6 separate regions of the Homo sapiens genome follow, and regions 2, 3, 4, 5 and 6 are each reported to be linked to region 1. The links are microRNA targets in miRTarBase. Many come from high-throughput screens and were not tested one by one. Region 1 holds a microRNA gene; each other region holds the end of a gene's coding sequence.

What was found. The annotated mature microRNA hsa-miR-5787 reads GGGCUGGGGCGCGGGGAGGU and lies in region 1 at 2,727-2,746, shown strand. An mRNA with a match to its seed (bases 2 to 7 or 8) in the 3' UTR can be bound and repressed. Matches are read on the target gene's strand: a 7mer-m8 pairs with bases 2 to 8, a 7mer-A1 pairs with bases 2 to 7 and ends in A, and an 8mer does both.
Region 2: miRTarBase lists MNT as a target of hsa-miR-5787. Seed matches in the 3' UTR shown: 7mer-A1 at 3,551-3,557, 8mer at 2,959-2,966, 7mer-m8 at 2,780-2,786 and 7mer-m8 at 1,464-1,470.
Region 3: miRTarBase lists MMP17 as a target of hsa-miR-5787. The part of its 3' UTR that is shown has no 7-base or 8-base seed match.
Region 4: the mRNA of PLIN3 is a reported target of hsa-miR-5787. Seed matches in the 3' UTR shown: 7mer-A1 at 3,643-3,649.
Region 5: the mRNA of LEAP2 is a reported target of hsa-miR-5787. Seed matches in the 3' UTR shown: 7mer-m8 at 2,788-2,794.
Region 6: miRTarBase lists NAA10 as a target of hsa-miR-5787. Seed matches in the 3' UTR shown: 8mer at 2,877-2,884.

What each region holds. Positions count from the first base shown.
Region 1 is chr3:50,224,712-50,229,806 of GRCh38, forward strand. It overlaps MIR5787 (microRNA 5787), which reads left to right and starts at 2,725; the gene lies at 2,725-2,779. It also overlaps a transcript of GNAI2 not described here. RefSeq lists an enhancer at 1,246-2,055 and a silencer at 2,568-2,937.
Region 2 is chr17:2,383,262-2,387,261 of GRCh38, forward strand. It overlaps MNT (MAX network transcriptional repressor), which reads right to left. Exons shown (of 6, transcript NM_020310.3): 6 at 812-4,000. The coding sequence ends at 3,640. Among named protein-coding and RNA genes, the nearest start is that of MNT, 16 kb to the right of the region's middle. RefSeq lists an enhancer at 2,722-3,546.
Region 3 is chr12:131,850,437-131,855,531 of GRCh38, forward strand. MMP17 (matrix metallopeptidase 17) reads left to right here. Exons shown (of 10, transcript NM_016155.7): 10 at 489-1,335. The coding sequence ends at 838. Among named protein-coding and RNA genes, the nearest start is that of MMP17, 25 kb to the left of the region's middle. RefSeq lists an enhancer at 1,011-1,180.
Region 4 is chr19:4,835,148-4,840,242 of GRCh38, forward strand. PLIN3 (perilipin 3) reads right to left here. Exons shown (of 8, transcript NM_005817.5): 8 at 3,194-4,389. The coding sequence ends at 4,045. Among named protein-coding and RNA genes, the nearest start is that of TICAM1, 6.0 kb to the left of the region's middle.
Region 5 is chr5:132,872,697-132,877,791 of GRCh38, reverse strand. LEAP2 (liver enriched antimicrobial peptide 2) reads right to left here and starts at 4,124. Exons shown (of 3, transcript NM_052971.3): 1 at 4,041-4,124; 2 at 3,703-3,842; 3 at 2,746-3,382. The coding sequence starts at 4,097. The coding sequence ends at 3,346. AFF4 (ALF transcription elongation factor 4) reads left to right here. Exons shown (of 21, transcript NM_014423.4): 21 at 1-2,397.
Region 6 is chrX:153,926,582-153,931,633 of GRCh38, forward strand. NAA10 (N-alpha-acetyltransferase 10, NatA catalytic subunit) reads right to left here. Exons shown (of 8, transcript NM_003491.4): 7 at 4,182-4,266; 8 at 2,644-3,642. The coding sequence ends at 3,406. Among named protein-coding and RNA genes, the nearest start is that of ARHGAP4, 2.8 kb to the left of the region's middle. RefSeq lists silencers at 1-27, 1,438-1,997.

The sequences.
Region 1 (5,095 bases):
TTCAGTAGAGTGGCCAGTGATGAAGCTTTGGATCTGGGAAGCAAAGCAAGTGGTGTTTAAAGCCATGGGATGGGAAGAAGCTAAGTTCAGACAGAGGAGGGCGGCAGTAAGCACTGAGCCCTGGAAGATGAGGCAGAACCAGCAAAGGAGCTGGGCGGGAGTAGCCAGGAGGTGAGAGGAAAACTGGGAGAGCATGGGCACCTGGAGCCAGGTAAGTGTCAGATGCTGCCAAGGAGTTGAGGGTAGAGGATGGACCACTGAATTCGGACACCTGTGGATCCCTAAGGACCCTGACCAGGGCACTTTTGTGAGGGAGGGACAGGCCTGCCTGGAGTGGGCAGAGGAGAAAGTGAGGTAGAACTGGAAAGAGCCAGTGTAAACAACTTGTGTGAAGTGAGAGGGGCAGAGCCAACAGTGGCTTTTAAGAAAGACTGGAAAGTTGGCCGGGCACGGTGGCTCACGCCTGTAATTCCAGCACTTTGGGAGGCCGAGGCGGGTGGATCATGAGGTCAGGAGTTTGAGATCAGCCTGGCCAACATGGTGAAACCCCGTCTCTACTAAAAATACAAAAATTAGCCAGGTGTGATGGCGCACACCTGTAATCCCAGCTACTCGGGAGGCTGAAGCAGAATTGCTTAAACCTGAGAGGCAGAGGCTGCAGTGAACCGAGATCACACCACTGCAATCCAGCCTGGGCAACAGAGTGAGACTCCGTCTGTGGGTGGGAGGAAGAAAGACTGGAAAGAAGAAGGTATTGAGGTGAGAGAATGGAAGCAGCTGGTAGGAGGGTAGGTTTGAGCTCAGTGAAAGACTTCCAGGATGGGGGTGCTGGAAACTGAGCTGGAAAACAGTAGACAGAGATTGGATAGTGGGGGTCTGGACATCAGGGAGTGTGCAGCTTGGCCACTGACCTGCCTGGTCAAGTGCTGGTGGCTAGGGACACAGCGGGTCCAAGACGCAGGCAAGGATGGCAAGGAGCCGTGGAGAGACCCAGGGGACAATTCAGATGTCTGCCTAGGCCAGGTGTGGTGGCTCATGCCTGTAGTCCCAGCACTTTGGGATTCACTTAAGGTCAGGAGTTCAAGACCAGCCTGGCAACATGGCAAAACCCTGTCTCTACTAAAAATACAAAAATTAGCCGGTCATGGTGGCACACACCTGTAGTCCCAGCTACTCTGGAGGCTGAGGCACCTCCAGAGAATCGCTTCAACCCGGGAGGCGGAGGTTGCAGTGAGCCGAGTTCGCCATTGCATTCCAGCCTGGGCTACAGAGCAAGACCCTGTCTCCAAAAAAAAAAGAAAAGAAAAAAGATGTCTGCCTGGACCCTAGTTTAAAGTCACCCAGCAACTGACTTTCCAACAACGCGGAGCAGTAATAATTGACTGAAGGTTGCTTAGAAAGAAGAGCAGCCCTGGAAAAATCTGAAAGCATAAAACTACTTTCCAACCACACAAGTCTACAAACCGCCTGGCTACACACACAGGATTAGCCAGCGACCTAATCCGCCAAGCTATGCAAAAGGAGGCCTCTGCTGACCCCTGGCGGTCACCAGCCGGAGTCTGGCTGCGCGGTGACCCACCACACGTTGCCCAGCCGTGTGGCTGGGATGGTCGGTACCCATGGCCGTGCGGTCGAGCCTTGATGCTCCAGGACAGTCCTGGAAGGCTTCCTGGCAGATCCGTGGGAAGAAAGCCGACAGAAGGGCGGGAGGCGGGAGGGGAAAGGTCCCCCGGGATGGGTAGGGCCTCAACGCTGGGCATCGGCGCAGGTGTGTACTGCAGGGAGCCAGCCAGACCCCCCACGGACTGCCTGACCTTGGGGGAAGCCCGGAGTAGAGGAAGAGGCCGGACCCCCAGACCCGCCATTGACTATGTCCGCCATTGACTATGTGTTCTGAGAGAAATTTTTTTTTTTTTTTTTGAGACTGAGTCTCACTCTTTCGCCCAGGCCGGAGTGCAGTGGCGCGATCTCGGCTCACTGCAAGCTCCGCCTCCCGGGTTCACGCCATTCTCCTGCCTCAGCCTCCCGAGTAGCTGGGACTACAGGCGCCCGCTACCGCGCCCGGCTAATTTTTTGTATTTTTAATAGAGACGGGGTTTCACCGTGTTAGCCAGGATGGTCTCGATCTCCTGACCTCGTGATCCGCCCGCCTTGGCCTCCCAGAGTGCTGGGATGACAGGCGTGAGCCTCTGAGAGCAAATTTTACCCAGTTCCTCTCTATCCTCCCGATGACTCTGAAATCAAACTCAGCAAGTCATCCGAGCCCCCACGGCGCAGCGGCCCTAGGCTGGCATGGGCGATGCGGAGCTACTCCGCCCTCAGGAAGCAGGCGAGGTGCCCAGCGGGAGAATCACCCACATCACCGTCTAATCTCTGCTGTGAAGTGGAAGCGCGAGAAGGAGGGAGCGTCTCATGACGGAGGGTGTGAAGACGCTAGGCTGGACGAAGCAGAAAGGCGGGTGTCACTGGGGACGTTCTGAGGGTAAGCCGATGGCGGCTATCGCGGAGGAGACCCTGGCGAGGTGGGGCCCCGCGCGGGGCAAGGGGGATGGGGTGCCACAGAGGGCTAGTTGCAAGAGGACGCGTGACGGCTGCAGCTCTGCGGAGACCGGGCCTCGACGGCCAAGGAGTGGCAGGTCGGCGGAGGCGGGGGCCAGGCCCGGAGGCAGAGCGAGACAGGAGAGCAGGCAAGGCGGGGGCCACCGTGAGTGGGGGCCGCGAGGCGGGGGCTGGGGCGCGGGGAGGTGCTAGGTCGGCCTCGGCTCCCGCGCCGCACCCCAGGCCCGCCAGGAGGCGCCGCTGCCCCGCGAAGCCGTTCCGGCCTCTCCCGGCCACCGAAATCCCGCGCTCCGGCCTAGAGAGGCCCCGGAAGAGGCGGTGCAGCGCACCCCGAGGCCGCTTCCGGCTTCGGCTCTGCAGGAGAGGCCAGAATCGGGGGAGGACGCCTTGGGCGGGGCGTGGGTGAGAGAACCTGGGGGAGGTGAAGAACTAGGAGGTTGCACTGGGAGTGGACAAGGGGGAAAATAAGAATTAGGGAGGGGCTGCGGTGGGCAGGGCCAAGGGCAGGTAGCACCCTGCAAGGTTGCACCCTGCGCAGCTCTCGGTCCACTGCTGAGCCTCCTGGCTTTTTACCTCGCAAAATGCCGTCCTGGTGAGGTCCCTGGGGAGCCCACCGCTGGCCAAGACCCAGGACAGGGCAAGGAAGGCTTCCTAGAGGTAGAGAGGTGCACAAAGGCGGGAAAGCAGATACGGGGACATTGGGAGCCCCTTTAGACCGATCTTTAGGTGTCTGAGCCACGCCCATTTGGAGGGAAGGCTGAATGGGGACCAGCCCGCCCAAACCTGCTGGAGGAAACAAAAACTCACTCCCGTTATAATTGCTCCCCGCCCCCTCACCAGCTCTCTTCTCCCCGGAGACGGGACAGCCCTGTCTCCACAGGCTTCACTCCATTTCCCTCGAATGGTGCCCACCTCCTATCCTCCCATCTCTCTTATCCTCAGGTTCTACTACTCATAGCAACCAGAAGGAACTTTAAAAATCAGATCATGTTGGCCGGGCACGGTGCACGGTAGCTCACGCCTGTAATCCTAGCACTCTGGGAGGCCGAGGTGGGCGGATCACCTGAGGCCAGGAGTTTGAGACCAGCCTGGCCAACATGGCAAAACCCCGTCTCTACCAAAAATACAAAAAAATTAGCTGGGCGTGGGGGCGCGCCTTGTAATCCCAGCTACTCAGAGGCTGAGGCAGGGGAATCGCTTGAGCCTGGGAGACAGGCTGCAGTGAGCCAAGATCGCGCCACTGCACTCAAGCCTGGGTGACAGAGCAAGACTCCGTCTCCAAAAAAAAAAAAAAAAAAAATTCAGATGATGTCATTCTGCCTTCAACACCCTCCAGTTGTTTCCTTCATACTTGGAATGCAATTTAAACTTTCTTGCCCCATGGCCGGGATGATCTGGCCCCTGCTGACCCCTGCCCCCTGGTACTAGCCCACAGCCTGTCCTGTTGGCATGGCATGCCATGCTGGCCCTCACATTAGGGCCTTTGCACTGGCTGATAGCTTTTCAAAAGCTTTTTCTCCAACAGCCTGAAGTCACTCCTGACAAGGCCCACTTCCCTAACTCTGTCTGCTTGGCCTTGATCGCAGTATTTGCTCCATACGGTACAGGCAGAGCGATGCTTGTGCGTCCAGAACTCAGTGACCAGCTTCCCTCCCGCAACAGGTCCCTCCTCCCCTATTACTCCCTTGCTCCTAGTCACAATCTACAGGAAGCCCCTGAGCCCAGCTGGCAAGGTGCACCTTGCTTGGCTGTTTGCTGTTGCATCACCTTCATTAGGGCTGTTTTTGCTCCTTCATTAAATTAAATTCCAGGAAGCAGTGCTAATGACAGCCCTAACGAGTCACGGGAGAGGCTACCAGCCCCAGCCTTTGGAAAGCATGGCAAGGAGGACTAGGCAATAACATGAACAAAGCAGTAGCTCCTGGGAATAGAATTGATTATCATTTCCCAGGCCCCCCAAGGACCCTGGGCTTCCCAGGGGAGGTGGCCTTTGGAGACTGCCTATGCAACAGGCACAGTGGCAGGTTGTACCATGAACTCTTCAAGGACAAAGAAAAGGAGGGAGGTTAAGTTTAGGCCTTGGCCCCAAAGCCCTGAGAGCTCCTGAGTTCCCTGCAGGGCTTGGGTAGCTCCTCCCCAGTCATACAGGAACACCCTGAATGCCAGAACCAGTTGGGTTTGTAGGGCTAGGTGTGGATCACTGGCTTGGAGATGTTGGTGCCCCTACCTCAGCATCCCCTGGAGACTTTGGAACCCCCTGTGTGGCTTGTTCCTCCATGATGCCTCATGGCAGTCCCCTCTCACACCAGTCTTCTCTTGCTCTCGCTATTCTGGCCCGGCTGGACTCCTCTCTGGTTTGGGAGCATCCAGCTCCTTCCCAACCCAGGGCCCTTGCACTTGCTGCTGCCTCTGTCGTCACTCTCTTCTGGCTTGTTACAAGACTGGTCCTTCCACATGATTCAAAGATCCCCTCCTCAGACTATCTTCTCCTGCACATACCTCCCAGTGGCTCTAGTGTCACCCTGTTGATTTCCTC
Region 2 (4,000 bases), not on the chromosome of region 1:
GTCAGTCAGGTACTGTCAGGGTGGAAATGAGAAGCTGGGCCCCCTTGCCCAGCCTGGTCTCCAGCAAGGCCTAGCTAGTGGCTCCCTGACCTCACTTCCCACACCACCTCCTCCCATGACAGCCTGCCCAGGGAGAGAAGACACAGCCACAGGGACAAGGGGCTTCCAGCCCAGCTGAGAACACGGCTCTTTGCCCCTGACCTCCAGCCTCTTCTTCCCCTTGTTCCTTTCCCTTAGAGGACAGCTTTATGGACTCCCCGGCTGACCTGTTGTAACTGCACCCCCAGAGCAGCCCCTCAGGAAGCTCTCACCCTCTGTGCCCAATCCCTGGGGCAACTCCCCTGTACCTTTTTTATTGGATCCGAGTCTAGGACTGGCCCCAGGTGCCACAAGGGTGGCAGATGCTGGGTAAGAACTCTGTACCCAGTTCAGAGGTCTGACTGCAGCTCCAACGAAGTCTCCAGCTAGCCGTGTGGCCTCAACAAGTCACTGGGCCACCTCAATCCTGTTTCCTTATCTGCCAAAATGGGGCTAAGTCTGGCTTATTTACTTCACTTGGCTGTTGAAAGATGAAACAAGATAATGCTTGTAAAATGGTCTGAGGAAATACGAAGCTTTGCAAAAGTTTCAGACCGACCAGAACTGCCATTTTCAGAGCGGCGGAGGCACCGGGTCAGAGCCGCTTGAGGACTATGCTGGGCAGACAGGGTCGAGACAGGTGATCTCACCGCTCCTGCCACATGCTTCCCTACAGGCCTCAGCCTCCTTTTGCAATAAAATGACCCAGATGCTGCAGGCTGGCAGCTCCATCTCAGGTTTCAGTGCAGGTTTATTTCAGTTTTATATTTTATTCCAGGCAAGTGCTTATTACATGGATAGTATTCATGTCTCGGTAACTAAAGTCTTGGAGCATGAACAGCCACTAGAATACAGTTCAATAGTAAAAATACAGTATGTACAAAATTAGGGTTTTTGTAGTTTTTTTTTTTTTCCACACAGCAGATGTATCCAAACACATAAAAATCTCTACAGTCTGGGGTCGCTACAGTTTATATTTCAGGAAACAGAGACACAGTGGCCGAGTCCTCACTGTAAACAAGGGCCACCTCTGGGGGTTGGGGGTGGGACCCTGGGATGGGGGGAGAAGCAGCTGTTTCTGGAGAGAGAAGGGGTCATGGTGGCCCCCCAGTTACCCTCCAGGCATTCCCTGCCTTCTTTGGCCCCCCAAGGAACCAACCTCCCCCTCTCCCCGAGGTAAGGACTCCCAGCCAGTGAGCCACTCTGAACATCAAAAGGTAAAACACGCATGAGAGGTAAGATGTGTGCGTGTGCGTGCGTGTGTGTGTGTGTGTGTGTGTGTGTGTGTCCCAGGCTGGAAGGGCTAGGGAGGGAGGGCCAGGCGGTCCCACAGGGTGAGGACAGATGTGGTCCCGACAGCACTCTGGGGGAGACGCCCAAGGAAGGGCTGGGTGGTGACTGCCCACTTGGGCACACAGCATCACAGCGTTCACAAACGACAAGAAAAACAGCAACACCCATCGTCACCAATCTGGACATAGTCATTCGGCACTAGATTTGCAGGCCCCCGATGCTGGGGGACAGGGACGGGGAGGGGCAGCGGGTGGATGATGAGGTATCTGTGCAGGCCCGGGGGCCACTGGCCTCAGGATGCAGGGAGAGGTGGGCAGGCTGAGGGGAGGGGCGAGCTCCACGAGGCTGCTCTAACTGCCCCGTGGGTCAGGCCTGCCATCGCTGTCACAATGGGAATAGCAAAGCTGGCTCTCCCAGAGCCACGGGGTCTGGCGGAGGTGGCTGTGCTGGGGTGGGTACAGGGCTCAGCCTCTGAGGATGGTGACCTGGTTTGTAACTGTCCCTTTACCCACACCAGGAGAGAGAAATAAGGAACAGTCCCCTGGGAGGTGTCCAGGACCAGGAGGGAACAGGAAGGGAATTTTTAGGCATCTAAGGATTCTTTATTTCCAGAGAAAATCTATTCAAGACCTTTGCTGACCTCCTCTGTGCCTGCAGGGCACTCCAGGAAATCCTCAGCTCTGTCCCCTCCCCCCGGCCCCCTCGCCGGCCCAGGCCCCTGCCCCAGCCCATCAGTGTGAGCTTCACATCCAGGGACACCGGCTTCCTCCCGCTACACTGAAAGGCCACTGGTGAGTGTGTGTCCAGGTGGGGAGCCGAGCGTGTCTGACACAAAGCCACTTGTAATAAACACCCACATACAAGGAAAGGCCAAAGCAGGCTGCCCAGAGGCAGAGAAAGCCGCATCCTAACACAGAGCCCCTGACTCCTCCCCCTTCCACGCTCAGCCCTGTCCTTGACCCAACCAAGGACCTCTTCTCAGAGAAAGGTGCTGCTGCTCTGCAGCTCCCCGGGCAGGGCCCACTCAAAAGCGTCCCCGGGAGAAGCAGGGTGTTGAGGGGATGGGAGGACAGAGGCAAAGGGGCTGGAGCAGAAGCAGCAGCCCTAGCTCTGGCCCTCTGTTCTGTATAGGTCCCAGGGTTGGTCTGGGGACAGGCTTAGGGCTTGGCTAAGCCGCTGGGTTTTTACCTTCCTGATGTCTCAACGATGTGGCTTCTATGCTCCTGGAAACAAGACCAGATGCTGGTCCATGTCTCCCAAACTGCAGGAGGCACCCAAACCCACAGGCCGCCAGGCCCACCTGTCCCTTGGAGCAGTGCCCAGCACTCAGCAGAGGTCAGAGATCAGGGGCTGAACGCAGGACAGCGCCCCTCTTTGCTGCCTTCTGGAAGCCAAGAGCCAAGCCCAGGGCTGGGGACTGGGGACTGGGGACAGGGGCCCAGTGGCTCTCCTCCCATCCAGACCCAGGCTGCAGGGGACGGGGAAGGGGAAGGACAGCCAAGTCCCTCCTTCCCCACCTCAGCCTGCCCTCCTGAGGTCCAGAGCCCAGTGGCAGGGATTGGGGTGAGGGCACAGGAAGCTTGGCAGTGGCTGGGTTTGGTTTATTGTTGGTAGAGAATCATTTTAAGTAGTATCTACGGTAACGAATCACAGTGACTGCAACCGGGTCAGAGAGCCCCAGGCTGAGGCCCCACCTGTCCGGGTGGGACTCCAGACCAGCCACTTCCTATGATCTGTCACCTGTGCTCAGAGCAAGGCCCCTTATCACCCCAATCCGCAGCTTTCTGGGCCAAGTGGCTTCAGTTCTGCTTTCCCCATTTCCCCTCCAAAGGCCTGGGAAGAGAACATGAGGCTCCGGAGGAAAGCCGGGGGCCTGGGCCACCTCACCAGACAGCAATAGCAGCAGCAGCACACGAAGGCGGGGCAGGGCGGGGGAGAAGTCAGGGAGCGTGACGTCCACATCGCACTGATTTCCGAGGGTAGGGAGGGGAAGCAGGAGCGGCACTGGAGCTGGCACTGGGCCGGACAGGTGGCACATTCCATCAGAGTCTCGCATTTTCTCAGAGTCATCTTACCAAGTCCTAGTGCAGCAGGGTGGCCCTTCCCTCCCTTGGCTCAGAGTCTTTGCACCCCCTTCCCCTAGGAGGCCTGGGGGTGGGTGGGGGGGCTGGCCTGGGCCTGGCTGGAATGTGTGGAGCTGGTGGGTGAGAGAGTGGGGGACAGGTCCCCCTCCCTGTCCCCACTGGGGGCCTCTGAGTGGCCTCGTCCTCAAGCCAGCTTGAGTGTGCTGACTGGGAAGGAGGGCATGGTGACCATGGTCACAGGGTTGAGCACGGTCTGGCCCACCAGCTGGGGGTGGTGCACCACCTGAGCCCCCACGGCCGGCTTTGCCATGACAGTAGCCGGGGGCCCCAGGCCGGCCGTGCCGTTGACTTGCTGGTGCGAGAGGGTGTGGGCGATGTGGCTCACTGCCACGGGCTGCGGGTACAAGGGCAGCTGGGAGCCCAGGTGGGCCACATGGTTGAGGGTGGCAGGGTGCACAGTGATGTGCCCAATGGGGGGTGTGGCAGGCGCCAGTTGCACCGCAGGGCTGGGGGCCGAGGGGGCGATGTGGGCGATGTGCTTGCCG
Region 3 (5,095 bases), not on the chromosome of region 1:
TGCCACGTCCCACAGTGTAGAAGAAACCTCCCCACAGGGTCAGCTCCAGGGACGGCAGCATCCTCTGTTTTGTTTTCAACGCTGCATCCTTGTCACCTGGAACAGCCCTGCACAGAGTGGGCCCTCAATAAATATCCAGTAAGGGAAAGAGACTCTGAGGGTCTCCTGGTCCATCCCCTGCCCCAGCAGGCTCCTCTGGAGCTTCCCAGGCCTGTGACCATGCCTGCAGAGCTGCCCACAGCTGAGCAGATGCTGACCCCATCTCAGATATTATCTGGGCACCCCCTGCCATCTAGCACGAGCCGCCCCCCACCAGCCGTCTGGTCTGACCCCCCACTGCAGTCTTGTGCAAGCCCCCTGCTGTCTGGCCCGACTCGAGCCCCTTCCGCTGCAGCCCTCCCTGAGCCCAACGCTCCCTCCTCGCTGTCCGGCTCGAGCCCCTCCTGCTGCAGCCCTCCCCTGAGCTCAGCTCTCCCTCCTCTTCTCAGGTGCCTCCTACTTCTTCCGTGGCCAGGAGTACTGGAAAGTGCTGGATGGCGAGCTGGAGGTGGCACCCGGGTACCCACAGTCCACGGCCCGGGACTGGCTGGTGTGTGGAGACTCACAGGCCGATGGATCTGTGGCTGCGGGCGTGGACGCGGCAGAGGGGCCCCGCGCCCCTCCAGGACAACATGACCAGAGCCGCTCGGAGGACGGTTACGAGGTCTGCTCATGCACCTCTGGGGCATCCTCTCCCCCGGGGGCCCCAGGCCCACTGGTGGCTGCCACCATGCTGCTGCTGCTGCCGCCACTGTCACCAGGCGCCCTGTGGACAGCGGCCCAGGCCCTGACGCTATGACACACAGCGCGAGCCCATGAGAGGACAGAGGCGGTGGGACAGCCTGGCCACAGAGGGCAAGGACTGTGCCGGAGTCCCTGGGGGAGGTGCTGGCGCGGGATGAGGACGGGCCACCCTGGCACCGGAAGGCCAGCAGAGGGCACTGTCCGCCAGGGCTGGGCAGGCTCAGGTGGCAAGGACGGAGCTGTCCCCTAGTGAGGGACTGTGTTGACTGACGAGCCGAGGGGTGGCCGCTCCAGAAGGGTGCCCAGTCAGGCCGCACCGCCGCCAGCCTCCTCCGGCCCTGGAGGGAGCATCTCGGGCTGGGGGCCCACCCCTCTCTGTGCCGGCGCCACCAACCCCACCCACACTGCTGCCTGGTGCTCCCGCCGGCCCACAGGGCCTCCGTCCCCAGGTCCCCAGTGGGGCAGCCCTCCCCACAGACGAGCCCCCCACATGGTGCCGCGGCACGTCCCCCCTGTGACGCGTTCCAGACCAACATGACCTCTCCCTGCTTTCTAGCGGCTCGGCTGGGCTCCCTGGTGCTCCAGGGCCATGGGAGTGGGTACCCTCGGGCCTCAAGGGGCTTGACCCTGACCAGGGGCCCACGCACCTGCACTTGGGGTGGGGGCTTCCCAGGAGGTCTCGGCAGTCGCATTCCTCCTTGTTCATCAGCCCGTCCCGCGCTGTCTCTTCCAGTCCTCGTGCCCCGAGGAGTCCCCACGCCCCTGTCACAGATGGGAGAGTTGAGGCCCAGCGGGGGATGAGCCTCAGTGCTACAGGCAGGGGCATCACGGGCGGGCGGGGCGCCAGCTGGCCCAGTGAGATCTGAGTGTGGGAGGTGCCCGAGGAAAGGCATCAGTTGTTGGGTGAGCCACTTGGGACGCTGTCTGCCCCGCAGCACTAGACCATGATGCCCGGCCGAGCACCGGGACCTGGGTGCGCCCAAGAGGGAGGGTAGGTGCTCCCTGCGCAAGAGGGAGGGAGGGTGCTCCCTGCAAGGGGCTGATTCTAGCTCCAGCCACTCTGTCACTTGCTCCCTTTGCTCCCAGCCTCCAGATCCACAGCGGAGTCCCTCAGCCTGCCCCCACTCTGGCCGGCGAGTGACGCGTCTGTCCTGCAGTACCCTCTTGTTCAGAGGGTGCAGCCGATGCCACTCTGCAGGGCCCAGTCCTCCCGCTGGTGCACAGTCCTCTGGTCTCTGCGGCACAGACGCACCCCGGGCCACAGGTTCGGGGCCTCAGGCTCTGGCTCACCAGCATCTGCCCTGGGCTGTGGAGGGCCCGGGTGCCCCCTCAAACGTGACTCAGTGAGGATGAGGAGGTGGCCGTTGGACTGTGGGGGATTCACTCCCACATAGCAGGAAGTTCCTGACCACAGGCCCAGCATAGGGAGCGGCTGGGGCCACCCAGGGTGCAGATGAGGCTTCCTGGCACCCAGGAGCCAAAGCCCACAGCCCCCTTGTCCCATCCCAGGGATGGCACCCATCCCAGGATGAGGCTGCCAGGGCCGGGCAGGCAGGCCCCAGGCCAGGCCTCATGGAGCCGGGCCACCTCCCCGTGAAGAGAGGCCACATCCTCATGGAGTCCAGCCGTGTCCTCTGTCCCCCGCCTGTTCACCATCTGCTCCCTGGAGCAGGAGGAGTCCCTGCCTGTCAGACCAGTCTGTGGAAAGACCGACCTCCCTCCTGTCTGTCGGGGACACTGGCTCTGCCCTGCACCAAGTGGTGTTTCCTCATCACGCTTTGTTGCCCAGCAGCCTGTGGGGTGAATTCCCCCGTGCAGCTGGCCCAGCCCCGTGGTCCCCACGTCCTGGGTCGTGCCCCAGTGCAAAGCCGGCTGTGGGCCTTGTCTGCTGAGTCGGGCTCTCACGTTGGCAGGGCTCACTGCGGTTTTGAAGTCCAAACTCTCCGTCATAAGCCTCTTCTGCCGGTCCTATCTCTGGTGAAGAGGTGAACCGTAGGCGGGGCAGGGGGGCTGCTCTGAACTTGCCTCTCCATGCTGCAGCCCACCTCCCTCTGGCAGTGGGGTGGCCGTGCTGGGTCCTGGGGCAGGGCCTGGAGCCCCGCCAGCCCATGACGCATTTCATGAGCCCCCACCTTTTGATATGCACATGCAGCTGAGGCTACCCTGACCCCACATTCAAAGTCGGAAATCCCCAAAACCCAAGACCTTTTGAGCACTGATGGGCTCGGGGTGCACACAGAACATTTGGGATTTCACTTTTTTTTTTTTTTTTTTTTTTTTTGAGACAGAGCCTGTCGCCCAGGCTGGAGTGCAGTGGTGAGATCTCAGCTCACTGCAACCTCCGCCACCCAGATTCAAGTGATTCTCCTGCCTCAGCCTCCCGAGTAGCTGGGATTACAGGCAGGCACCACCACGCCTGGCTAATTTTTGTATTTTTAGTAAAGACAGGGTTTCAGCATGTTGGTCAGGCTGGTCTCGAACTCCTGACCTCAGGTGATCCACCCGCCTCAGCCTCCCTGAGGTGAGGCTAGGATTACAGGCATGAGCCAACACACCTGGCCAAGTGGCAGTATTTGAAAAAAGAAAAGCAGAGAAAAATGCTCAACCTGTAAGTATAATGCAAATATAGTGTCCAAACTCCAAACAATCTGAGCTCCAAAACACTTTTCTGGTCCTGCGCGTCTCGGATGAGGAACACGCGGGCAGGGCGTGTTGTTTTGTGGAAAGGATCTCATGTTCATAGAAAGCTGCACCCGCAGCATGAGAGTCCTCTGCATCCTTTGGGAGGCGCTGACCACCCTGAGCTCGCTTCTGTGTCTCCTGGAACGCAGGTGTCCTCCCAAGGTCAGAGTTGGGAAAGACACGCAGCCAGTGGATCTCAGATCAGAGGATGCTGCAGGGACAGACCTCACCCAGGGCAGCCTTCTTTGGCCCGGCACAGCTCCCGGGCCTTCCCCGACCCCTGTGACCTCGCACCTATGAGGGCTGCCGGCCCGTCCTTCTGTGGTCCATGCCCCCGGCCTGTCCGCCTGCACCTTCCTCGTGATGGGACCTCGGTTCTGTGTCTTCAGCAGGCAGTTTTCCATCTTCGCCTGAGTCACCATCTAAACACCTGGAGACTTCACGTGACGTTCTGGATTTTCAGAGTCACTGCTTATACCTCAGGCTGTGCTGGCCCAACTTGGAGAAGCTGTGCCCCCAGGCCCAGGAGGCAGGGCATCGCCAGCCCACAGCCACAGTCAAAACCCTCCGAAGGAGGTCAGAGGACCCACGCCACCCCAGTGAGGGGCAAGGACCTCTTCCCTTCTTCCTTCCACCCCAGGGAGGTCAGCCTGGAGGCCCAGGGTCTCTCTTGAGCCACACGGCCGGGCCAAGGCACTGGCTGCCCTTAGCGTGACCCAGGCTTTTGACCAAAAACACACAGCCCCATGGGTGCTATACAACGCCTCTGCATGGGAGACCTCCGAGGCCAGGACACACCCTCTCCAGCTCCCATGATACAGGAAGGGAAACTGAGGCACGGTGTCTTAGCTCAGCTTGCCGTGACAGGCTGCTGTAGACCATGCGGCTTCCACATGGGTGACCTCTGAGGCCAGGACACACCCTCTCCAGCTGCCGTGTTACAGGGAGGGAAACTGAGGCACGGTGTCTTAGCTCAGCTTGCCGTGACAGGCTGCTATAGACTGTGCGGCTTCCACACAGGCATTTGCTTTCCCACCAATCTGCAGGAGTCTGAGGTCAGGATGCCGGCAGGGTCAGGTTCTTAGAGGCCCGCTTCCTGGTTCAAAGCCAGCACCTTCTCACTGTGTCCTCACAAGCCCGAGAGAGAAAGTGCTGGTCCCTTCACCCCCTACCAGGGCACCAATCTCATTGTGGGGGCTCCGCCCTCACGACCTCATCTAACCCAAATCGCCTGCCAAAGGCCCCCTCCTAACACCATCACACTAGCGGTCATGGTTTCAAAATGTGACTGGTGGCCGGGCACGGTGGCTTATGCCTGTAATTCCAGCACTTTTGGAGGCCAAAGTAGGAGGATCGCTTGAGCCCAGGAGTTCAAGACCAGCCTGGGCAACACAGCAAGACCCCATCTCTACTAAAAACTTAAAAACCACACACACACGCACACACACACACACACACACAAAGATGTCTGAGGAGACACAGACATTCAGTGCATAACATCCAGGGTGGATGGGCCAAGGCTGCCCGGTGGGTGGGTGGCCCCAGATCCCAGCCGCACCTGTCCCTCCCTGCCACCCTCCTGGCCTCCTTCAGAAACCCTGTGGGGAGTGGATTGTGGGGGCTTAGGAGG
Region 4 (5,095 bases), not on the chromosome of region 1:
CTGCACTCCAGCCTGGGCAACAGAGAGAAACCCTATCTCAAAGAAAAAATATAAAAAAAAAAAAGAAAGAAAGATAATATTCCAGTAAAAGTCCAAGTTTTTTTTTTACTTTCCCTCTCCACCACCTCCCCTAGAAGCCTCCACCCACAAGCCCATCCATTCTGTTTTCCACTTTTTTTTTTTTCTTTTTGGAGTCAGAGTCTCGCTCTGTCGCCCAGGCTGGAGTGCAGTGGCACGATCTTGGCTCACTGCAACCTCCTCCTCCTGGGTTCAAGCGATTCTCCTACTTCAGCCTCCTGAATAGCTGGGATTACAGCTGTGCGCCACCACGCCCAGCTAATTTTTGTATTTTTAGTAGAGATGGGGTTTCACCATGTTGGCCAGGCTGGTCTCGAACTCCTGGCCTCAAGTGATCTGCCTGCCTCAGCCTCCCAAAGTGCTGGGATTACAGGCATGAGCCACCATGCCCGGCCTCTGTTTTCCACTTTTGCACACATATCCACAGATCCGTGATCATGATACTGAATATTCTTCGATCTGATTTTCCTTTTTAATTCGCATAGGCCAGAGTTCAGCAAACTGTTTGTTGTAAAGGACCAGACAATAAATACTTTCGGCTGGGCGTGGTGGTTCACGCCTATAATCCCAGCACTTTGGGAGGCCGAGGCGGGCGGATCACAGTGTCAGGAGATCGAAACCATCCTGGCTAAAGCGGTGAAACCCCGTCTCTACTAAAAGTACAAAAAATTAGCCGGGCATGGTGGCAGGTGCCTGAAGTCCCAGTTACTCAGGAGGCTGAGGCAGGAGAATGGTGTGAACCTGTGAGGTGGTGCGGCTTGCAGTGAGCTGAGATCGCGCCACTGCACTCCAGCCTGGGCTACAGAGCGAGACTCCGTCTCAAAAAAAAAAAAATTTACTGTATTCCATTGTCAATATATCTTTGACACTTTCACAAGTCAACATATGTGTCATGTATGATATTCCAAAACAGGCATTGCTACCTTAAAATGTGGTGGTTATAAGCACCGTGGAGAGAACTTGACTCTTTGAGTCCAATTTTTTTTTTTTTTTTGAGACAGAGTCTCGCTCTGTTGCCCAGGCTGGAGTGCAGTGGCGTGATCTTGGTTCACTGCAACCTTTGCATCCTGGGCTAAGTGATTCTTGTGCCTCAGACTCCCCAGTAGCTGGGATTACAGGTGTGTGCCACCACACCCAGCTAATTTTTGTATTTTTAATAGAGAGGGGGATTTCACCATGTTGGCCAGCCTGGTCTCGAACTCCTGACCTCAAGTGACCTGCCCACCTTGGCCTCCCAAAGTGCTGAGATTACAGGCGTGAGGCACCATGCCTGGCCTGAGTTCAAATTACTACTCAGCTATTAGTAGCTGAGGTGGGGCTGAGGGTGGGCTCTCTGGATTACACCTCATTTTCCCTGGAGATAATAGCATCTATCTGATGGGATTGGGAAAAAGATCGGGTGAGAGCCAGGTGCAGTGACTCTCACCTGTAATCCCAGTGCTTTGGGAGGTTGAGTGGGAGGTCGCTTGAGCCCAGGAGTTTGAGACCAGCCTAGGCAACATAGCAAGACCCACATCTGTGTGTGTGTGTGTGTGTGTGTGTGTGTGTGTGTATAATTTAGCTGAGTGTGGTGGTGCACGCCTGTAGTTCCCAGATACTCAAGAGGATGAGGTGGGGCCAGATGTGGTGGCTCACACCTGTAACCTCAGTACTTTGGGAGGCCGAGGTGGGCAGATCACTTGAGGTCAGGAGTTTGAGACCAGCCTGGCTAACATGGTGAAACCCCATCTCTACTAAAAATACAAAATTACATCCTGGCTAACACGGTGAAACCCTGTCTCTACTAAAAATACAAAAAATTAGCCGGTTGTAGTGGCAGGCACCTGTAGTCCCGGCTACTCGGGAGGCTGAGGCAGGAGAATGGCGTGAACCCAGGAGGTGGAGCTTGCGGTGAGCCGAGATCGTGCCACTGTACTCCAGCCTTAGCCGGGCGTGGTGGTGCACGCCTGTAATCCCAGCTACTCGGGAGGCTGAGGCGGGAAAACCACTCGAACCTGGGAGGTGGAGGTTGCGGTGAGCTGAGATAGTACCACTGCACCCCAGCCTGGGCAACAGAGTACAACTCTGTCTCAAAAAAGAGCGAAAAAAAAAAAAAAAAAGGCTGGCATAGTGGCTCACGCCTGTAATCCAGCACTTTGGGAGGCCGAGGCGGGCAGATCACTTGAGGTCAGGAGTTCAAAGCCAGCCTGGCCAATATGGCAAAACCCCGTCTCTAGTAAAATTCAAAAATTAGCCGGGCATGGTGGGGCACGCACCAGTAATCCCTGTGGCTGTTGGTTATAGGGAGTGGATTCCTATGTAACATTCATTGAACTGTCCCTTTAAGATTCATATACTTGGGTGCATATGAATTCAACTTGAATATGGATTAACAAAGAGAAAGTAACATGTGGTTGGTGATGGGGGAAATGAACCCTCTCAGGACTTAGGGTGGGAGTGAAAAGACTGACAATGATTTGGGCAACAGTCCAGCAGTATTTAGTAAGACTGAGAATGTATCTTCTCCATGTCCCTGGGAGAAGTCCCTGAAGTTCCCCTTCTCTGTAGCTACCGTAGAGAAACACTGTAGATTGTCACTTGGATTTTTTTCCGAGATGGTATCTTGCTCTGTTGCCCAGGCTGGAGTGCAGTAGTGCGATCTTGGCTCACTGCAGTCTCAAACTCCTGGGCTCAAGTGACCCTCCCACCTTACCATGCCTGGCTAACTTAAAAAAAAAAAATTTGTGTAGAGATGGGGTCTTGCTATGTTGCCCAGGCCAGTCTCAAACTCCTGGCCTCAAGTGATCCTCCCACCTCGGCCTCCCAAAGTGCTGGGATTACAGGCGTGAGCCACTGTGCCAGGCCTGCCAGTGTCTTGATCTTGGACTTCCCCGCCTCCGGAACTGTGAGAAATCAATTTCTGTTGCTCATAAATTACCCAGCCTGGCCAGGCACTTTGGGAGGACGTGGTGAGAGGAACGCTTGAGCTCAGGAGTTCAAGATCAGCCTGGGCAACATAGCAAGACCCCGTCTCTACAAAATAAATAAATGAATAAATAAATTACCCTGCCTAAGATATTTCTGTTCTAGCAGCAGGGACAGATGAAGACACACACACGTACACACATGGCCTGTATGCAGTTGTGGGTGAAGTTTATTAAGGCAATACTGAATACCAGAGCATTTCAACAAGGCTTACCACACAGGCCCCAGTACCTTTCTACTCTACAATGAGGCTCAGAAGCTCAGTGTACCACCCCATCCCCAGGAGGCCCACTTAGACCAGAAATCCCAAGTCCATTAGCTACAGGCTGATATTCAGGGACATCGGTGTAAACAAAGAAGTGGGATATGAACTATATCCCTGATTTTTTTTTCTTTTTTTTTTTTTTTGAGACTAAGTCTCACTCTTGTCCCCCAGGCTGGAGTGCAATGGCGCGATCTTGGCTCACTGCAACCTCCGCCTCTCAGGTTCAAGAGATTCTCTTGCCTCAGCCTCCTAACTGGGATAACAGACACCTGCTACCATGCCCGGCTCATTTTTTTTTGTATTTTTAGTAGAGACGGGGTTTCACCATGTTGGCCTGGCTGGTCTCGAACACCTGACCTCAGGTGTTCCGCCCGCCTCAGCCTCCCAAAGTGCTGGGATTACAGGTGTGAGCCACCGCACCCGGCCTATATTCCTGATATTTAACAAGGAAAAAAAATTCTGCAGGGGAGAACTTTCCTGAAAGATATTTTTTCTGGACATCTCTCTCTACTGACTGATAGGGTGAGGCTCAGAACAGGCTTCTTCCAAGCTCAGAGAGGCTGAGAGATGGGTCAACTGGGTGATGCCCGTTTTGAGAGCCTTAGCTTCCCAAGTGGACAGCACAGAAGAGCTGGGAGGAGTGGCTAGAAAATAAGTTTGAAATGAGCCCCGGGTTGAGGACTCCAGAGCACAGCTGCATTATAGAGACGGGGCCCGCTGAGTCCTCTCCTCTCCCCCTACTTCTTCTCCTCCGGGGCTTTCTCAGTGATTCCAGGGGCAAAGGGTCCCACGAGCCACGTGACAGGTGTGTTCTGGGCCACATATTCCACCATGTGGTCCAGGGCCTCGCGGGCGCTGGCGACACGCTCACGGCTCTGGGCCAGAATGCTGCTGGACAGGTCCTGGAAGGAGTGGATGCTGGAAAACGTGGCCTGGAGGTCCTCCACCTGGCGGCGGGCCTGCTGCACCTGGTCCTTCACATTGGTGGGGAGGCCCTGAATGCTGGACCCCAGGGAGGTACAGGTGGCCTGCAGTTGCTGGGCAATGTCCCGGAACATGGTGAGCGCCCGGGACTCGACCTGCTGAGAAGGGAGATGGGGACACCAATCAGGACCATTTGTTTCAGGAAAGGCGATCGGAGCTGAAGCCAGGGAAAGAGGGGAAGAGGGGTTCTACCACTGACCTTGGGGCAAACGCTTTCCATAGGCGAAACTTTTTTTTTTTTTTTTGAGACGGAGTCTCGCCCTGTCGCCCAGGCTGGAGTGCAGTGGCACAATCTCAACTCACTGCAAGCTCCGCCTCTCAGGTTCGCGCCATTCTCCTGCCTCAGCCTCCCGAGTAGCTGGGACTACAGGCGCCCACCACCACGCCAGGCTAATTTTTTGTATTTTTAGTAGAGACGGGGTTTCACCGTGTTAGCCAGGATGGTCTTGATCTCCTGACCTCGTGATCCGCCTGCCTTGGCCTCCCAAAATGCTGGGATTACAAGCGTGAGCCACCGTGCCCGGCCCTTTTTTTTTTTTTTTTTTTTGAGATAGAGTCTTGCTCTGTTGCCCAGGTTGGCGTGCAGTGGCATGATTTTGGCTCACTGCAACCTCCGCCTCCCAGGTTCAAGCGATTCTCCTACCTCAGCCTCCCGAATAGCTAGGACTACAGGCGCGTGCCACCACGCCCGTCTAACTTTTGCATTTTTAGTACAGATGGGGTTTCACCATGTTGGCCAGGCTGGTCTTGAACTCTACCTCAAGTGATCGGCCCTCCTTGGCCTCCCAAAGTACTGAGATTACA
Region 5 (5,095 bases), not on the chromosome of region 1:
TTTGTATTTAATGACAGAAACGTTGGTACATTTCTTCATGAATGAGCTTGCATTCTGAAGCAAGAGCCTACAAAAGGCACTTGTTATAAATGAAAGTTCTGGCTCTAGAGGCCAGTACTCTGGAGTTTCAGAGCAGCCAGTGATTGTTCCAGTCAGTGATGCCTAGTTATATAGAGGAGGAGTACACTGTGCACTCTTCTAGGTGTAAGGGTATGCAACTTTGGATCTTAAAATTCTGTACACATACACACTTTATATATATGTATGTATGTATGAAAACATGAAATTAGTTTGTCAAATATGTGTGTGTTTAGTATTTTAGCTTAGTGCAACTATTTCCACATTATTTATTAAATTGATCTAAGACACTTTCTTGTTGACACCTTGAATATTAATGTTCAAGGGTGCAATGTGTATTCCTTTAGATTGTTAAAGCTTAATTACTATGATTTGTAGTAAATTAACTTTTAAAATGTATTTGAGCCCTTCTGTAGTGTCGTAGGGCTCTTACAGGGTGGGAAAGATTTTAATTTTCCAGTTGCTAATTGAACAGTATGGCCTCATTATATATTTTGATTTATAGGAGTTTGTGTCTGGGTCCCAGGAACATCTACTGGGGATGACTGTTAGGCAGCTTGTGATGATGTTTTTTAAAAAACCTAAGTAACTTGGGGAGACAGAGCATTTCAAACCCATATAGACACCTATCATACCTGTATATCCCCTAATACATGGAACATAAATTTCATTTCAGCTTTATGCATTAATGTATTGAAGAGGCAGGCTTTTTTTCCAGTAATAATACTGTACATCTAAGGTTGCTATTCAGTAAAACTAATAGAAGAGATAATTATTGAATACCTTGGAATATGTAGTGAGAAGAGGCCAAATTTTTCATGTTTGTGAGCATGTCTTTCAGATACTCGCTAATGGAGAAATTCACTTTAGACCTCTAGACCCCAAAACCAAGTTAGCAAGTGACAAAAAGTAAATTATTAATAGTCTGTAAAGTGGATGCTGGTCTTACAAAGCTCCTATTCACATGAACCCTATGGTTAATTAGAAAGAACTTGCTGTCTCCAGAAAAGGGAATGGAAATAATAACTATGTATCTTCTTTTCATGTAATTTGGTCACAGAATAAGGTATTCAAGTTAAGTCTAATCCAAGTCTTAGAGATCTTTAAGTATCCTAAAATAGCAGCCTAAGTAGTCATCATGTAAAGAAGTTGACTTTCAGGAATGTCAGCATTGACCTCTCCTTGCCACTGTTACTCAGCTAAACATAACTTGCCATTCTTAAAAATAAAAAAGCTCCCACCCAGAAACTCTAGTGATACTCAGTTTTGACCTCTTACTGCTTCCATGTGGGACTTCTTTTCAGCTTTTAACCATTGGAATTTTCTACCTGCTATGTTCCTCTCTGGAAAATATCAATTTGGAAATGCTGCCTTTCAAATCAATGCCATGATCATCCATATTGTTGAGTTTGTTGTTGGTGTTCCAGAAGTGTCCCCATTTTACAACTTTATGCACACACCTGGCAAATCATTAACATGAGCATTCAACAGTACTGGGATGGGTGGGGTGGGGGTAGGGGGCTCACCAACAGAACTGGCCAGTTGACATTGCCTGAAAAGGCACCACCTTTAAGGGCCAGTTGTGGGGTTGGTAAGCACAGTTATGAAAATTTCTATCTAGCCTCCGTTTTGAATGGTTTTAAGAAATTTTGTATATGGAGGATGGAAATGCTTATATATTTATTGAAAATCCTTTTATTTGAAATTAAAATTATTTGGTATATAATTGTTTGATATTTGGGGAGGGTTTTGGAGGGGAGATAATGTCACTGATAAATTAAAAGCCTGTTGATTTTGCAGAAAGGTACTGTTAGTGACTGATAAGGATGCCTTTGTTTTGTACATGAACCAAATCTTTGTTTTACATTTCTTTTATCCAAAATATTTAGGCATCTGACATTTTCAACCAGAATTTCAATTATATACTGTGATTTTTATTTGTTGCAATACATTACAATTTCAGAGGTACTTTGGGGCTCAAAAGCTAGGATTTCTAAGTCAGTATGTGCATTTCACACGATAAAGCTGTTAATGGTGAGCAAAGTATTATATACTAACTAGATTTTTCCACATCTGTATAGTATATTATATGTATTTTGTGGTATTGAGAGTATAGAAAGTTTAGAGTGTCAAACATGCGTTTAATGTGTATTTTTAAACAAATTTATGGCAATTAAAATATTTGGAGACAAGGGTATCACATTTCAATTTGTAAAGATCTTTTTAACTCTACTGTGTCATTAAGATGCTTTGTACAATGCCAAACCATAGTTGGAGAAACTAAGTTTAATAAATATCAAATAGATTTTCTGTATTAAAGTTACTGAACACTGTACTCTTTATATTTCTTCAACTCTGAGCCCTTTTCATGCAATTCCTGTTTTGTGTCTTAAGGTCCGTTACTACTCTTTAAAAGTCTGTTCCCACCAGCTGAGGTCTCATTTTCTGATTACAGAAATTCTGAACTTGCTGGCCATGGGTCCTTGTGCATATGTCAAAATTCACCTTGTCCCAACAGAAATCTTAAATCTCTTTTGGTGCTTTTGGTGGCTTGGGCTTTCATTGCTTTATTAAACTAGATTTTTCTCTCTGTTCTGCCTTATCTTCAGACAGCCATAGACAAACCTGGGTGCTTCATTAGATGGCAAGTGCTTGACCATCTTTTTTTTTTTTTTTTTTTTTTGAGACAGAGTCTCTCTATGTCACCCAGGCTGGGGTGCAGTGGCATGATCTTGGCTCACTGCAACCTCCACCTCCCAGGTTCAAGTGATTCTCCTGCCTCAGCCTCCCAAGCTTGACCACCTTTGACACCTCCCTGAAGAGTATGGAGTGAAGGGATCCAGGGCCACAGCTTAGGAACTTGCTGAAGTTGATTACGTAGCTATTGATTATGTAGCTCTCACTACACTTTCCAGATTGAGAAGTTAACACATTATTGGGCAATGCTGTTTTTTTCTTTAGTATACAAAATGAATCCTTCTTTCCCTCAAAAGCTTGAATTCCAGACTGCTAAAATTTCAATTTGAGACATTTAATAGTATCCATAGAAAAATAAACTCTAAATTGACAAGTTTAGTTATGCTTATCCATATATCAACATTCTAAGAAGAAATGGAGACCAATTTAAAGCGTACATCTGCCTTTAAATATTAAAAATACAAGATTGCTTCACTTGGGTGTCTCCAGCCAAAATGCAGTTAATCAATATTCCATAGAACGGAGCATTGTCGGAGGTGACTGCTGTCCTTTCTTTCCCTGGTATGTACATCATTCCTGGGCCACACTTAAGGAACAGCGTCTTTTTCTAGGGGAAAAGAAAGGGTAGTTTTTTAAGACTGGGTCTAGGAATGACCAGGGCCACCTATGCTGCATTTCCTTCCTCTTTGCTTGATCTGTCCAGTCTCAGGAAAGACTGAAGAATGGAAAGGCACCACTCTTTCATGGTACCCACATAGAGCTGTTCTTGGCTCCTAACTCCTAAGGGATTTTCCATGGAGCTCCCAGTCTCAGTCTAGAACTCCTCCATCCCAGCTTTATTCTTAGGTTCATGTGTCCCCTTGTCACTCCTCTGCCCAGCTTCCCAGGGCTCTCTGGCCCAACCCTGCTCCCAGGTTCAGGGAGTACCTGCATAGCCTTGTGATACACTCAGAATCATCCCGGCAGGAGGCTCCAATAGGCCTGAGGGAAACCCCTCTCCAAAATGGGGTCATTCTCCGTGGCCTTCTCTTTGCCGAACTCACTTCTGGTATTGGGGAGCCATCTATCTGTAAGGGCAAAGACATTCAGATATGAAAGTGTTGACACCCTGCTGCACACCTTGGAAGAGTGATCATTCCATTCCGCAGATGCTGTAGACTCAGAACAGAGGAACCATTCCTCAGGACTGAATCTAGCTTTCAAGTTCCACCACCACTATCATCTCCACACTCCACACACACACATAAGTATCCTTCCCTCCTTACCTGGCCCAACAGCAACAGGAAGATCATGAGGACTGCACAAAGTTTGAGGTGCCACATCTTGACAGGGGGAGGATGTTGGAGCCTGAAAGCCAGGGACAGTTCCTACTTCCTTTTATAGACTGACATCAACTCTTGCATTGTTACTGGGTGAGATGGGGGCAAAGTTTATATTTGTAATCAGAATCAATTTAATAAGTTAATGTCTACCGGAGGAATGTGCTCAAGGGCCACCTTTCAGGCACGTTGTATTTACTGATCCCTCATCTGGACTTTGAGTGATTGTGTTGCTGGCATGGACCCTTTCGCCCATTTTACCAAAAGTCAGCACTGCCCTTCCTTCCCTTTGAAAGCCACGTGAAACCATTGAGGGAGGTCAGGCAACTAGCCACATTTCTATTCCAAAATAGCTCAGTGAGATCACTCCCATAGAATTCCAATAATGAAGTCTTCAGAAATAATGTTGGCCCCTTTCAGCCTTGTCTAGGAAAGAAGCACTGATCTATTGTGTACAGCCAATTGGATAAGGCCCTTATCTCCTTTCTGTGGGAGGATGCTTCAGCAAGGCCTACAGTTCCCCAGATCGTCCACTTGCTTAGATGGACTGTCACCCTAATCTGCACCTCTTTATCTCACTAGTAAAATGAAGACCCAGCTGTGGAAAGTTCAAAGTCTGGCCTCCTGCCCTCTCAGGGGAATGGCTGGATGTGAGACTTATTTGGACCACAGGTGAATTGAATAATTATAGGTTTCTTTTTGTTTTTAAGCACATGTAGATGAGGAGGTAACAAGATCTCCTAAATCAGAGGGAGAGCTTGTGTAGTGACTGTATTAAAAGCCTTGAATTATGGGCTTTCTTCCCAGTAGTTGAGTGGGGCCTTTCCTTCCGGCAGCTTCAGGGCAACAGGCATAGGGATGAGATACCTCCAAAGCCCAAAGCATCCATCAGTTTAAGTAGGAACTGCTGCAGATTTCTAGACCAAGGGAGGACATGTATCTAAACGATGGGTAGTTATGGGTACTCGTGAAATGACATGGGCATTTTAAGTTTGAGGGGA
Region 6 (5,052 bases), not on the chromosome of region 1:
GACTGTACCATTCACAGCGGGGCCGCTGGCCCACTGTACCAGTGGCCATGAACACCATTGCTGCCCCAGGCTCTGGACTCCCCCTGGGTTGCCTCCTTCCCCCAGACATCCGATGGGGTCCTCCCTTCCCAAGTCAGCCCCCAGAGAGGCCCAGGGAGCCCCAGGGAGCCTTGAGAGCTGGGGTGGGAAGTTCAGAGGGGAGGGGGAAGGAAGGTCAGCACCAGAGAGCAGAACCTCAGCAGCTGGCTGCCGTTCCCTCCAGGCCCCCTTGGTAGGGGAGGAGAGTTCAGCTCCGGTTCCCCTTCTGCTCAGCCCCACAATTTCCCCATAGGCGGTTACCACTTCCTGCTGCCGGAAGAGACTGCTCTGCCTCCCTTCCCCTGCAGCTGCACCTGCCCGTCATAGGCCTGAGGGGGGCAGCCCCCTCGGAGTGAGGTCTTAGCTACCCTGGGGGCAAGTCTTGGGGCCCCCCTCATCCAGGGGTGGTGGGGCTTTCCTCCACCCTCTACCACAGGGCAGCAGCTTTTCTCCGGGAAATCGGGAAGGCGGGAGGCGGGAGGCGGTTGACAAGCCAAGCAGACAACTGGCTTCAATTTGGTGGGAGGGAAATCCCTGGGGTATAGATGTGGGGAGAGAGGCAAGGCACTTGGGCACCAGGCGTGTGTTCCGAAGGCGGGCGTGGGGGCACTAGTGCAGGGGTACTAGGCGTGTGTGTGCACGGATGTCAGAGTCAGGCTCTGTGCAAATGCGGGCACACATGACCTTGACCTGCAGATCTGGGGAGGGGAGGCTGTGCGGGTACTTCCTGCCTTTCAACTGTGAGCAATTAATTCTCTTGCCCAGAAGGAAAAAAACACTCCCTCAGCTCCCCGCCCCCTTCTCCCAGTACCAAGGCCCTTCTCGAACACGTCGTCGTGTGTGTCTGCAGGACCTGGGGCTTCAAGGCCTGGGAGCTAGCCAGACCCAGGACCTGGACTTCCAGCAGCTGGTCTCGGAAGTACCGATGTTCGAGTCCTCCAGCGAGACTAGAGAGCCTGCGCCCCTGCCCACAGCGCGTACAGCCGCACCCACACTCCAACCTGCTCCTGGTCGGGAGACTCACACGTCCCACCGCTGCCTCAGGCCAAGGGGAACCAGGGAGCCCCGCCTCTCACTAGCTGGCCCCAACACATCTTGCCCCTCCATCCGAGCCCTGACTGGTCCCCAAAGGTCCCTCCACCCAGCAGAGCCAGCCACAGGGCTCAGGCAGGCAGGAAAGGCCTCAGCCGGTGCCTTCAAACGCTCTCTTCACTCCTTTTTTCACTCCAGAGCTATTCCTAGGATGCCCCATTCAGCCCGTACTTTAGGGCCTGAGTGTTGGGCCCTGGCTTTTAGGGCACTTGTTTGGCATTTAAGGCCCTGAACGCAACTGCCCCCTGCTGCTCCGTCTATCCTTCGCTCCATTGTTCCCCTTCAAAGCATCCAAAAGCCAGGCAGCCCGCAGAAGGCGCGGACCTGCCCGCATGGGGACGGAGGCTCAGCGGCCGACAGGCATCGGGCCCGCCGGGGACGGACGGCAGAGGGCGGGCCGGGTCCCATGGGCCTGGCCGGGGCGGAAGGAGGGCGCCGCGGGCGCCGTGGGAGCCTGGGACACCTCCCTTCCACCGGTGCCGGGGCGCGGCCGACGCAGTGCGCAAGCCCGCCCTTCCCCCGCACCCTGCGCGCGAGCCCAGTGCCGCCGGACCAATCAGAGCCTGGGAACGAACCTCGCCGCGGGCTTGCGAACCGGAAGACACTGCCGCCAGGCGCGGGGCGGGACAGGACTCCGCCTCCGGCCCATACAAAGGGAAGCCCACGTCTTAAGCCAATCAACACAGCCTCGCCCGAGCCGGGAAGCGGAGAGCTGTGGGCGTGCGCAGACGCGCCTTTCCGGCCCCGGCCCCGCCCTGCCGCGCTCTGGGCTCCGCTTCCACAGCTGCCGGCTGCCTGCTGGTCACGTGCGAGGCGCCAGCCAAAGAGAACCGAGCTCCAGGCCTGTGTGGCGAGTTTTCAACCCGGCGGAGGAGCAGTGTGCCACCTGCAGTAGCAGGACACAGAGAGGGCTCAGGAATACAGGGCCCGCCCAGGGACTAGGGACAGTAAATGATGGCTTTGCAGCCGGAGGGGAGGGAAGGGAAAGGAGGAAAGACACAGAAACGAGCGTTACGGTTAGGGTGACTCCATGAAAAACAGGATTTTGATATATATGTGTATATGTATATATATATGTATATATATATTTTTTTTTTTTGAGACGGGTCTCTGTCCCTGGAGTGTGGTGGCATGATCAGGGCCCACAGCAACCTCCACCTCCCGGGCTCAAGCGATCCTCCTGCTTCAGCCTCCCGAGTAGCTGGGATTACAGGCATGCACCACCACACCCGGGTAAGTTTTCTATTTTTAGTAAAGATGGGGTTTCGCCATGCTGCCCAGGCTGGTCTCCAACTCCTGAGCTCAAGTGATCCCGCCCACCTTGGCCTCCCAAAGTGCTGTGATTACAGGCATGAGCCACCGCACCCAACAGCCGCCCAGTTTTGTATTTTGCATGAAATTGTTAATGAGGGAATACATGGCTTTATGCATTTGTGTAACCCCATAGAAACTGTACAACACAGACAGGAAACCTACTGTAAACCATGGGCTGTAGTTTACAATAACTTATCAGTATTGGCGCATCAACAATAACAAATACACCAACTAATACAAAATGTCAATGGGGAAACGCGGGGAATTGTACTAAAAATAAATTATTTTCAAATGCAAACTCAGGTTAGGGAGTAGACTCAAGAGGTATCATGGACTCACTGACCATTAGGGTGGCAGGGGAGGGAGGACTCAAGGACTGTTGATGGGGCATCTGGCTGGGTCATTACTCAGACAGGACATTTGTAGATAAGCCCAATGAGCAGTTGGATGTCCACATCTGGAGCCCACGGGTATGCTGGGGAGCTGCTGTAGCCCGAAGCAGGTGTGATTAGGGAGAGAAAGTCTGAAGGTGAAGGTGGGAAGAGAACTGAAGGCCACCAAGAGTGGGAGCCCTGCTGTTGAGCTTTGAGCCTGAGCAGCCCCGGCTTGTGCCACAAAACACATTCAGCGTGGCCAAGCAGACCTCCAAGGCAGGGTCTCTCCCATAAGTCCAGGGCCTCCTTCCCCGGGGCCACAGCTGCTGAAGGTCATGAGACTAGGGAGTCCCACCTCCAAAGCTCTTTCCTTGTACTCGGGCCTGGCAGGATGCTCTGGGTCAAAAGGCCAAGGCTCACATCCCCACCAGAGGACCTGGAGAAACACACCCTCTAAATGTGCGCGCGCTCACACACAAAGTTCCCCAGTGCCACGGAGCGAATTTATTGTGAAAGCTCGTGGGGTGAGGAGGGGATGGGGCAGGCTCTAGGAGGCTGAGTCGGAGGCCTCTGAGCTGTCCTTGACATCTGTGCTCTCTGTGGTCTCGCTGACCTCGCTGAGGTCCTTGCTGTCCCCACCACTATCCTCGGCAGCCAGGCCCTTCTCCTCGCGACAGGCCTCTCCTGAGCTCGGAGGTGAATTGCCTTTGCTCTCCACCTTGTTCTCGATGGCACCCAGCACCACGTGCCTGCCCTTCTCTTTCAGCTCCAGGTGCCGCCTCAGCTGCCACCAGGAACCCAGGGAGAAGCGGGGGCAAAGAGACAGGGCCTAAGTTTCCAGACAAAGGGAGCCTGGCCCTGTCGCTGGCTGAGGAGAGGGGCATAGTGAGGCAGCAGGGCTAGGCAGGACACGCGGGACTGAGTGGGGACACCTGGCTGGAGCCCCAGTCCACCGCTACCTGGGCTTACCGACTACCATGGAGGCCCCCACGACAGAGCGCTGCCCCTTGACCAGCCCTGCCACCCGATGAGCCTTGGGCAGAACCCTGACTCAGAACTACCTTTGAGCAGGCAGGCCACCCACTGGTCCCTAGACCTCCCCACTTCCCTTCTAAAAGCCTCCTCCCTCTGCCTCTCCCATCACCCTCCAGGCTGCTAGGCAGATGGCCTCCTCTAAAGCCCAGCCTAGGAAACTGAGGTCGTGACTCCTGGCAACGTAGCCACAAGAGCTGGCATCCAAAGTCGGTCTCGCCTGCAGCCACTGTCTTGGGGCTCCTGAGTGCCGCCCCCGCTCGCCTTGCTTGGCTTCATGCAGGCGCTTACCTCGTCGGCCATCTGAGTGAGGTCCCGCTTCATGGCATAGGCGTCCTCCCCATCTGCATAGTATTTGGGCTCCACTTCACTGATCCTGGGGGCAGAGGGTTAGAGAGCAAGGAGGAAGACCTGTATCCCGGGGACACCCTCCTCCACTCCTGGTATCGTGGCTACTGGAGCAAGGTGCCATGTTTTCTCCCTGAAGGCTCCATCCTGAGACAACAAGTCCAGTGTGACCTGCCCTCTGTTCTCTCCAGCAAAGGCTCCAGGACACAGCGGCCCGCCCCACCCGTCCTGCCCCCGTTCTGTGTCCTTAGCCTGGATACTAAGGATCCATTTCTGCGGTTTCTTGTGAGCTGAAGCCCTGAATTCAGCCTTCCCCTTCCCTCCCTGCCCTGCGCCCTGTCCCTTACTGAGCTGCCTCACAACAGCCATCAGAACCCAGGAAAGACGGTGAGCCCTGCCTGAGCAGCTCTGGGGCCGTGACTACACTGGGCAGGTGTGTGTGCAGACTCGCGTGGCCATGTCCCTGGAAGGGGAGCTGGACTCAATGGCCTAGGCTGGCCCTGCCAGGCCTAAGACATGAGGATTGCTGACTTAGCTATAAAGCAATTCCCACCAGACATCGTCATCTGGGTCACAGATCCCTCTTGCCAGCATCCAGCCCAGAGGCCACCGCCCTTCCCAACAGTCCCTCTTCTTCATCCCCTACCAAACGGGCTGAGTGCAGTTAGTGTCCCTCCACAGGCAGCCCACCCCAGCTTCACTTGCAAGCACTTTTTTCCACTGTCTACTGGGCATGCCAACTGCCAGGTTCTCTCTAGTGTGCTAGGCACACGGGGCCTCCTGGTCCTCAGGCAGACCTCCCCCATCCACTAGG